Linked DNA regions of Homo sapiens. The protein of the gene in region 1 interacts with the protein of each later gene in a pairwise test. Each region holds a gene or a part of one and is shown in the gene's direction. Other genes may lie near its edges.

Region 1 (5,561 bases):
CAGTACACCTACGGAGGACAATGGCTGTTTCTGGATATTATCATTAGGATGATTTTATTTTAGCTTTTCTGTATTTCCTTCAAGTTAAAAAAAATAGAGTATGTATTAAAAAAAAAACTACATCCATTTTGAAAACAATAAACACCTAACATGTCTTCTAAATCTTTCCTTCTCAGATGATAGCATGTCTCCAAATCAGTGGCGTTACTCGTCTCCATGGACAAAGCCACAACCAGAAGTACCTGTCACAAACCGTGCCGCCAACTGCAACTTGCATGTGCCTGGTCCCATGGCTGTGAATCAGTTCTCACCGTCCCTGGCTAGGAGGGCCTCTGTTCGGCCTGGGGAGCTGTGGCATTTCTCCTCCCTGGCGGGCACCAGCTCCTTAGAGCCTGGCTACTCTCATCCCTTCCCCGCTCGGCACCTGGTTCCAGAGCCCCAGCCTGATGGGAAACGTGAGCCTCTCCTAAGTCTCCTCCAGCAAGACAGATGCCTAGCCCGTCCTCAGGAATCTGCCGCCAGGGAGAATGGCAACCCTGGCCAGATAGCTGGAAGCACAGGGTTGCTCTTCAACCTGCCTCCCGGCTCAGTTCACTGTAAGGAAATGCCTACAGATACTTGGAGGGGTGCCTCTGATTGGTTGTGGTTGAGAGTGAGTTGGCATGAGATGAGGTGCCAAGACTAATTGCTGCCACTCTGGACATAGGGCTGCTGAGGGAAGGGATGTTCTGCTTAAATGTTCCATACATCTTCACTAGGCTTCATTGACATTCACAGTTTAATAGCTAAAGGGTTACATAGATAGCCAGCCAGATGGACTTGGCCCGAAGTACTCACCCTAGCCTGTCAACTTGGCCTTACCTTAGAAAAATGATGGGCTGCTGCGTAATATCGCAGGGTCCTGTGTTTACCTCATTGGGAGCAATTAAATAAGCCATTTGCAGAACAGAGCTCTGTGACGTACCTACAGGCTCAAACTGTAGCCTCTAAACAGGTTGGCAACTTGCAGTGATGTCAGGCTCCAGGCAAACAACAAGGGCAATCTATACCAACCATCTGCTCCACACATTAAAATTCAAAGCGACTGTAGGAGGCAGCCCCATTGCTGCTTGGAGACCTAACAGTGCCTGACTGTCCTTGGCTTGCTCCTGCACTCTGGGATCCTCCTGCTTGGTTTCCCTTGGGTTCCTGCTCCCTGACCACCACCCCTCCCCTGAACTAAAAACACCCTTAAGGCTTACTCACCTCTTCATTCACTCATTCACCCAGCAAATATTTAATTTGCGCCTACCAGATGCAAAATATCCATCAGAAAACAAGGCTCCCTTCTTTGTAAAAGGACGGGGAAGAATTGGCATTAATTATACTTCCACCAAAAAATCAACCTACTCTGTTGCAAGATTTGCCTTTAATATGAAACACTTATAAATATATATTTTATAGTTTCATGGAACCAAGTCTGCATCCTCTGCCATTCTGTACTCTGGACGAATTTTCTTTTGCAGCTTCCTTGTCCATACATAGTGTGGTTCTAGTGTTCCATGCCTGAAAGAAATTACTAGAAGCCATCTTTACACTGAACTAAGCATATAGTAAACAAAAGGCCTGTTCAGCATAGCCTACCTAAGTCAGGCACTGTGTTCTATTCTAATGTGGAAAACAAATTTCCCATTAAAATACCACTCTGTCATTTCCAGAATTTGATTAGGAATGTACTTAAGGAGTAAATCATAGAAGTGTCATGTTTGGGAAACCTGTGAAATTTCCTACCCCTCTACTCTTTTTCAAAAGTCCTTTCCTACTGGATTCACAGGGAAAATTAGGCCAACTGTGCTTGTATATATGCCTGTGCATACACACAGCAAAGCCCTGTTTCGACAGTAGGTTAGAACACAGATGGCTGAAATCATCACCTTCCAAACTTAGCAACTCTTTACAGTTCAAGTCCAATTCAGCAAATATTTAGTGAGCATCTACTGTAAGCAAGGCACATCATGGTGAAACTAATGCAGGCATTGTCCTATTCCTGAAATCTCAAGACACATTCACAAACAAATGGTTATCACCAAGGTCTTCATGCTCTACTCATGTTGACATGAGTTGTATTAATTGGTGACTGGAAGTCCAGGATCTGTTGAGGAAGTCAGTGACCCTTAATCAGGAACACTGCCTTGGAAGGTGGTGGACCTTTAAAACAGAAGCTTCTCAGTTTTTGTAGCATCTGATATGAGAGAATATGCTAGATATTCATAAACTTAGGGCCAGGCAATGTGGGGCCCCTGGAATGCTACTGGGCACTCTCTAACCTAGTCCTAGAAATTTCAGTTCCAATAATGTTTTCTTCTTCTTTTCTAGATAAGAAACTATATGTATCTCGTGGATCTGCCAGTACCAGCCTTCCAAATGAAAGTAGGTATCTGGGCCAGCCTTTGATGGTGTGTGTCTGTATCCTGAGAACGAACTTGAGAAATAAGGCTTCTGTCTACTACTGGAGACACTGGTAGTATAAAACCCAGAGTCTCCAGTAATGGACGGGAGCCTTATTTCTATCACTCAGTGTTTTCATAGATAGAATTTGTTTCATTTTAGCCTCAAAAAAGAGTATATGCACTTCCTATCTTGTAAAATTTTATTTTGCTATAGAAGAAACTCTCCTTAGTTTCTTTTTTCTTTTCTTTCTTTCTTTTTTTTTTAACCTGAGTTTGACTTAACTGAAGTAGCCAAGGTGACTCAGAAAAATTAAGAAATTCATGAGGATGAGGATTAGCTTGCTATGTCCCAGATGTTCAGTTTTCAGCCTAGTATTCTTTTATTTATTTCTTTTTTTTTAACCTGAGCTGGACTTAACTGAAATAGCCAAGGTGACCCAGAAAAATTAAGAAATTCATGAGGATGAGGATTAGCTTGCTGTGTCCCAGATGTTCAGTTTTCAGCCTAGTACATAGGGCCACCCCAGGACTCTGCAGTCAGTGAAAATGTCAACTGAGGCATGAGGCCAGGACTCTGAGCTCCACACTCAATTTGAAAGTGGTGTCAGTGGGAACTTACAAAAGAGGACAATCTGGGTGGAATGACAGGAGGATCTTCATGACCTGGGTTCAGGGTCAATTGCCAGCTTTATTATTTACTTGCTTCAGGAACCTGGTCACATTTCTTAACCACTTCATGCCCCAGTTGCTTCATTTTTGTCAAATAAGCATAAAATAGTGCCCACCTCATTGGGTGAGGTGTGAGGAGTAAATGAAATAATGTATACCAATGCTTAGAATAATGGCTGGCACATTACTCTAAGCGTTGGCATACATTAAACCATCAAGAATTCTTTTTGGAGGGCATCCTGTGTTCCCCAAGCTGTGCTCTGTGTGCTGTGTTTAAGAGAGGACTCAAGCTGGGTGTGGTGCCTCACACATGTAATCCCAGCACTTTGTGAGGCCAAGGCGGGAGGAACACTTGAGCCCAGGAGTTAGAGACTAGCCTGGGCAACATAGCAAGACCCTCATCTCCATAAAAAATAAAAATAGAGAGGATCCAAAGGAAGAGCCACTACCACAGCCCCTGATCTCAGGCATTTGACAGTCTGGTGTGAAGTAGGGGTGAGGGCAATCTATAGACCCCACTAGAATGTCAACCCCATGAGGACTGAGACTTTGAGAGGTATACCACTGTATCCCTAGCACCTTGCACAGTGGTATACAAATTTGTTGAATAAATGAATGAGTGAATGCTGGAAACAATAAAAGAGCATTTAACAAGGAAACAGTAAGAAAATGTAGTAATGTAGTAAAAATTATTCCAATGTAGTAAAAATTATTCTGTTTGATGCCTTCGTGTGAGAGACAAACAAAACAAAAACCAACCCTGGTGATTAATTGGCCATGCCTCCATGAGGAGATTCATTTAGAGCTGGTTCAAAAGCCTTAGCATAGCCAAGGCAGGCATCACATAAGTCCCTGCCCAAGGAAATGAGTTCTGCTGGCCTTCTAACTTATGAAAGGCAAGGATTGTGGTGTTTCCTGAGTACTTGTTAATAGTTTCTACATTTGTTTATTGTGAGTCTCAGAATTACTGATAACTTGATGCTTAAAATTGTTCATAGACTAAAACTAACAGCAACAACAACATGTATTGGGTGTTGACTATGAGCCACATACCACATACTCCATCTTGCTTAGTCCCCACCATGACCTTGTGAGGTGTATGTGAATATGTCCTAGGTGCTTTACTCAACCGATATTCAGTAAATAGTGATTGAATGAATGAATATCCCCATTTTATAGATGAAGAAACTGGATCTCAAAAAGGTGAAAGGACTTGCCTTAAATCACACAGCAGCAAGTGGCAGATGCAGTATTATCTCCTTGCTCTCACAGTGTCATAAAATTATCAGAAACAATTCCAAGTTAAATCAAGTATACAACAGTGAAAATTAGTCACTGGTGAGATTATTTTACCACACATGAGTTCACTGTCTATCTGGGACCAGGGCACTATCCTAAAATAAAGGAAGGGGGATGCAGAAGGCTCAGAAAGCAAGCAAAAGAGCAAAGAAAAATATACCTTTGGGAAAGAAGGTGGGGGATGTTCTTTCCTTGCAGAGAGTAGTTGAGGAAAGGTGGCTATGCCAACAGGCCCAAGTCTGCCTTTCTAACACTGTGGCCCTGGGCAGAGGGAGGTAACATGGAGCTGAGAGGAAGAGAAGGGACTTCCTAGGGCTCCAAGTAAAAGGACAATGGAACCCAGCAAAGCCCATGCTCTTAAGCATGACACCAGTCTCCCAATCTTGCCTGATGGTACGAACCACCTGGGGAGCTTGTTCACTGCCCAGATCCTGCTCCCCCACTTCCTGGGGGAGTAGATTTGGCATGAGACTCAGTTGCCTCTTCATGTTTTATTCTTTTTTTTTTTTTTTTTTTTTGAGATGAAGTTTTGCTCTTGTTGCCCAGGCTGGAGTGCAATGGCGCAATCTCGGCTCACTGCAACCTCCGCCTCCTGGGTTCAAGTGATTCTCCTGCCTCAGCCTCCCAAGTAGCTGGGATTACAGGCACCCGCCACAATGCCTGGCTAATTTTTTGTATTTTTAGTAGAGATGGGGTTTCCCCATGTTGATCAGGCTGGTCTTGAACTCCTGACCTCAGGTGATCAGCCCGCCTTGGCCTCCCAAAGTGCTGGGATTACAGGCGTGAGCCACTGCTCCTGGCCTCATGTTTTATTCTTTATATAATTTATATTAACCTCATTTAAAAGTGAACTACATGAACCTTTCAGTGGAAATTTAGGTTGTTCTGAAAGATTTCCTATGTGAGGCTCCAGAAAAATATTTGTCAAGGAAGGGAGGCAGAGTCTCCTCCTGCCCCTCCGATATGGCCCTAGTCCCCTCATGTGGGCTGTCATGCATCTATGAAGCAGGGGCATGTGGAGCAGAAGAGTCATCAGAGCCAAAAGGGTAGTCAGAGAGACCTTGGAGAAAGACATTCTGGAGGTTAGTCTCACAAATGTTGTTCAAAAGTTTTAGTGAATTTGATTTTATCTTTTGGTCGGTAGAAATAGACATACTGGTTATA
Region 2 (3,500 bases), on another chromosome or scaffold:
TTAGTTATCTGGTCAGGGATAAGTTCAATTTTGGTGATGACTATACTGGGGAAACCCTATTGCCCTGCCTCCAACCCTCAATAATAAGCCAGATGTGAGGACTGTTTCAGCTTCCTCAACATCTAGAACAACTTTGTTCAATAGAATTTTCTGCATTGATGGAAATGTTCCATATCTTTGCTGTCAGATATATTAGCCATTAGCCATGTTTGCCTGTTAAGCTTTTAAATATGGTTAGTGTCACTGAGGAACTATATTTACATTTTATTAACTTAAATTTAAGTAGGCACATGTGACTAATGGCTGCGACATTGGGCAATGCAGCTCTAGAAAAGTGGTAGATTGGAAAGAAGAGAGGGAGGTACAGCTTCCTATTCCCCTTCTTGTAGAGTCAGTGATCAGTGCTAATAACCTGTGATAGGAAAGTAGCTAGATCTCAGTGGATGTCTTCTCTAATTGATGAGAAGAGAGCACCCTCTTAATCATGCTTGAGTGACTGCAGATCACCTACTGTCAGGCTAAAGCCTGTGATTCTGAGAGGCAATTGCAGTTTGTAGCGTTGATTGGGGAAAGTGATTCTGTCTCTGGTGATTGACAGGATTGCTTAAAAAAAAGTATCTTCCAAATATGAATTGAAAAATTCATAAAACCATTATGAATATACATACAGTATTTCCTGTATAGAAAACAACTCAGTACGGATGTCATAATAGCATGTCTGTTATTACATTTGATATGTGTCTTACATATATAACAAGCTGATATGTAAAACAAAAGCATATTTAGAATTTTCTCAAAGTCAGGAAACATCAGATACATTTATTCTTAAAAGAGTTTGTTAGTTACATTTTTAGCTAATATGCTCAATGTTTTTAGATGAAGTACTGTAAACATGCTATTTTTCCAGACTTCATTTAAATACCCCCCCAGGATAACTATGATGCTTGTTTTTCCAGATTAACTGTTAGGTTGGTGCAAAAGTAATTGTGGTTTTTGGCATAATATTAGATCTATTGCTTTGATTAGGGATATTCCCTCTTTAAAAAATGTCTGGAGATTGAAAAATATATACTAAGCATATTTTTTGAAAGTATAACTAACATACTATTTAGCAATATCCTGTTTCCAACTTTGAAGATACCCTGCGTAATATAATTTGTAAATTCAAAATACATATACTTTAAAAAAGATTGGTATGCTGTTCAGTTTTACATTTTTCCTACTTGTCATTTTATTTTGCTCATTTTTCCATTTCCATCTATTTTAGATACATTGTTTTTATAGCAGCATAATAGTCCAGTGATTTAACATTTCTTTGTTGTTGGATATATAAGGTTTCTTGTTCTCTTTTTTATATACTATGCTTTTGCCAACATCATTTAAAATGAATGATTTTATGCATCTTTATGTAATCGAAGATATTATGACAGATATTATATATCTGTCACTGAAGGACAGAGTTGAGGTCTGCTCCTCTACTCAGTAGTGGGTGACAATGGAAGAAAAACTTGAAAGAAAAATTATCTACAGACTGTGTCTGAAATTGGGAACAAAACAGATGTTTTGCTTTTCTTAAATAAGGCAATAACCATTTCCTTAGGTTAAATTTTTGGGAGGTGAATTATTGGATCAAAAGCCATATATTTATGAAGCCCTTAAAACCAATTGTTGGATTGCCTCATCCCCAGAAATGTTACATTTATTGAGATTTTTATCAGTAATGTAAGAGTGGCTGTATTTCCCTAGATGTTTAAACATCTTTATTAACTTAATAGAAAATGATAATGGAATTGCTTTTATGACAGCTAATTTGATTAATTTTGTGATAAACACTTATTATCTGTGTATATACTACCTGCCCAAGGCCACCTCTCCCCATGCTCCCCTGACCAGCAGCATCTGTCACCTGACAACTTGTTAGAAACATAGATTCTTGGACCCTACCCCAGATGCTCAGAGACTCTGGCGTGGGGCTCAGTAGTCTGTATTTTAACAAGCCGCGATTCATGCTAAACTTTGAAAACCACCACCAGTTTCCCAACCTCTCGCATTTCCCCATCTACTCTTCATTGGATAATGACAAAACCCTTGCTTTTACTGACTGCAGATTCAAGGATGGCTTCATCTTGTGATAGTTTCCCAGGAGGTTTTCCTCACTAATTTTATGAAATAAATATGTATTGGGCATTTTCTTTGTACAAAGTTCTGTGCATACACCCTGACCATGTCCCTGGCCCTACCCTAAGCAATTTTTAGTTTAACTACAGAGATGTAATATATCTGTGTACATATACTACACGCTACAATGCCTACTATGTGGTAAAAACAGTAAAATATGGGTTCTTGGGAGAGAAAAAAATAATTAAGGAAGAGTTTGTGAAAAAGGTAAAATTGGAGTCAGACCTTGAAGGATAGACATGTTTTGCATAAGCAGGAGTGAGAGAGATGGCTTTTGTAAGTTGGAATAGAGAATAACACAAAAATGCATGAGGATAGTACTTTTTCAGAGTATTTAGGGGTCAGCGCAAATGTAAGATTTTATATAGAGCTGGGGTAGATGGATCATACAGGAAAAGCAATATCTTGATAAGGGTCTGAGTGATAGTGTCCCAAGAAACGCACCTTCCTTGGGTCACTCAAGGACAGAGTTGAGGTCTGCTCCTCTACTCAATAGTGGGTGACAATGGAAGAAAAATCTGAAAGAAAATTTATCTAGAGACTGTGTCTGAAATTGGGAACAAAACAGATGTTTTGCTTTTCTTAAATAAGGCAAATGTGTTATTTTATTTATTCCTTATCCCGTTTTTGTATCTCAGTTAAAATGATAGTTTAGTGCCCATGAGCTGTCAGGTGGAAAAGGGCCTCTGTTGTGGAAGACGGCAGGGCAGGGCCCTCTGCGGCTAATAGAGAAGCTGTGGTCACAGCAGGAAGCAGTTCTTCTGTACAGGGCTTGGTTCAGGTTGCAGCCAACTATCTTTACTGCTCTTGTGCAAAGCCTCAGACAGGTTTTTTTGCTTAGCATCATCCATTGTAATGTTCCCCTCACTAATTAATCCAGAATTGATGGTATAAGTATGTAATAAAGGCTTTAATATATCAGTTAACTGTGTTGCCTGTTTTATACTGTAGGAAAACCACTGCTGGAATGTAAAATAATATTGTCTTTTAGTATCTAGCAGATAGGAGGTACTGTGTCACACAGCTGTTGGAAGAATTAATAGTGAAGTATCTGCCTGATGAACTGTCTGAGAGAAAAAAAATATATGATGAAGAAACTGCTGAACTCTCACAGTAAGTTTCTTCTCATAAAAAAAATTATGAACTACTACCCTTTAATAGTAAGGAAAAACCTCACCGCAAGCTGGATCCTGTCTTTAGTTCATCTCAGTCTAGTCAAGAAGTATTGGTCTGTTTCCGTGGTCCTCAACAGACAGAATCTTATAAAAGTTCACTTGGTAACATCCGGATGTTTTATAGGGAGTTATTGACTCAGCTCTGTG

The links. The genes of interacting proteins can lie anywhere in the genome.
Region 2: the proteins of VGLL1 (region 1) and LONRF1 interact in binary tests that used the Homo sapiens proteins (3 or more experiments, as listed by UniProt).

What each region holds. Positions count from the first base shown.
Region 1 is NC_000023.11:136,548,413-136,553,973, forward strand, and holds part of VGLL1 (transcription cofactor vestigial-like protein 1), read left to right. Parts: intron 1-176; coding exon 177-596; intron 597-2,355; coding exon 2,356-2,409; intron 2,410-2,465; exon of another isoform or gene 2,466-2,548; intron 2,549-5,561. UniProt on the Homo sapiens protein: May act as a specific coactivator for the mammalian TEFs.
Region 2 is NC_000008.11:12,731,527-12,735,026, reverse strand, and holds part of LONRF1 (LON peptidase N-terminal domain and RING finger protein 1), read left to right. Parts: intron 1-3,169; coding exon 3,170-3,291; intron 3,292-3,500.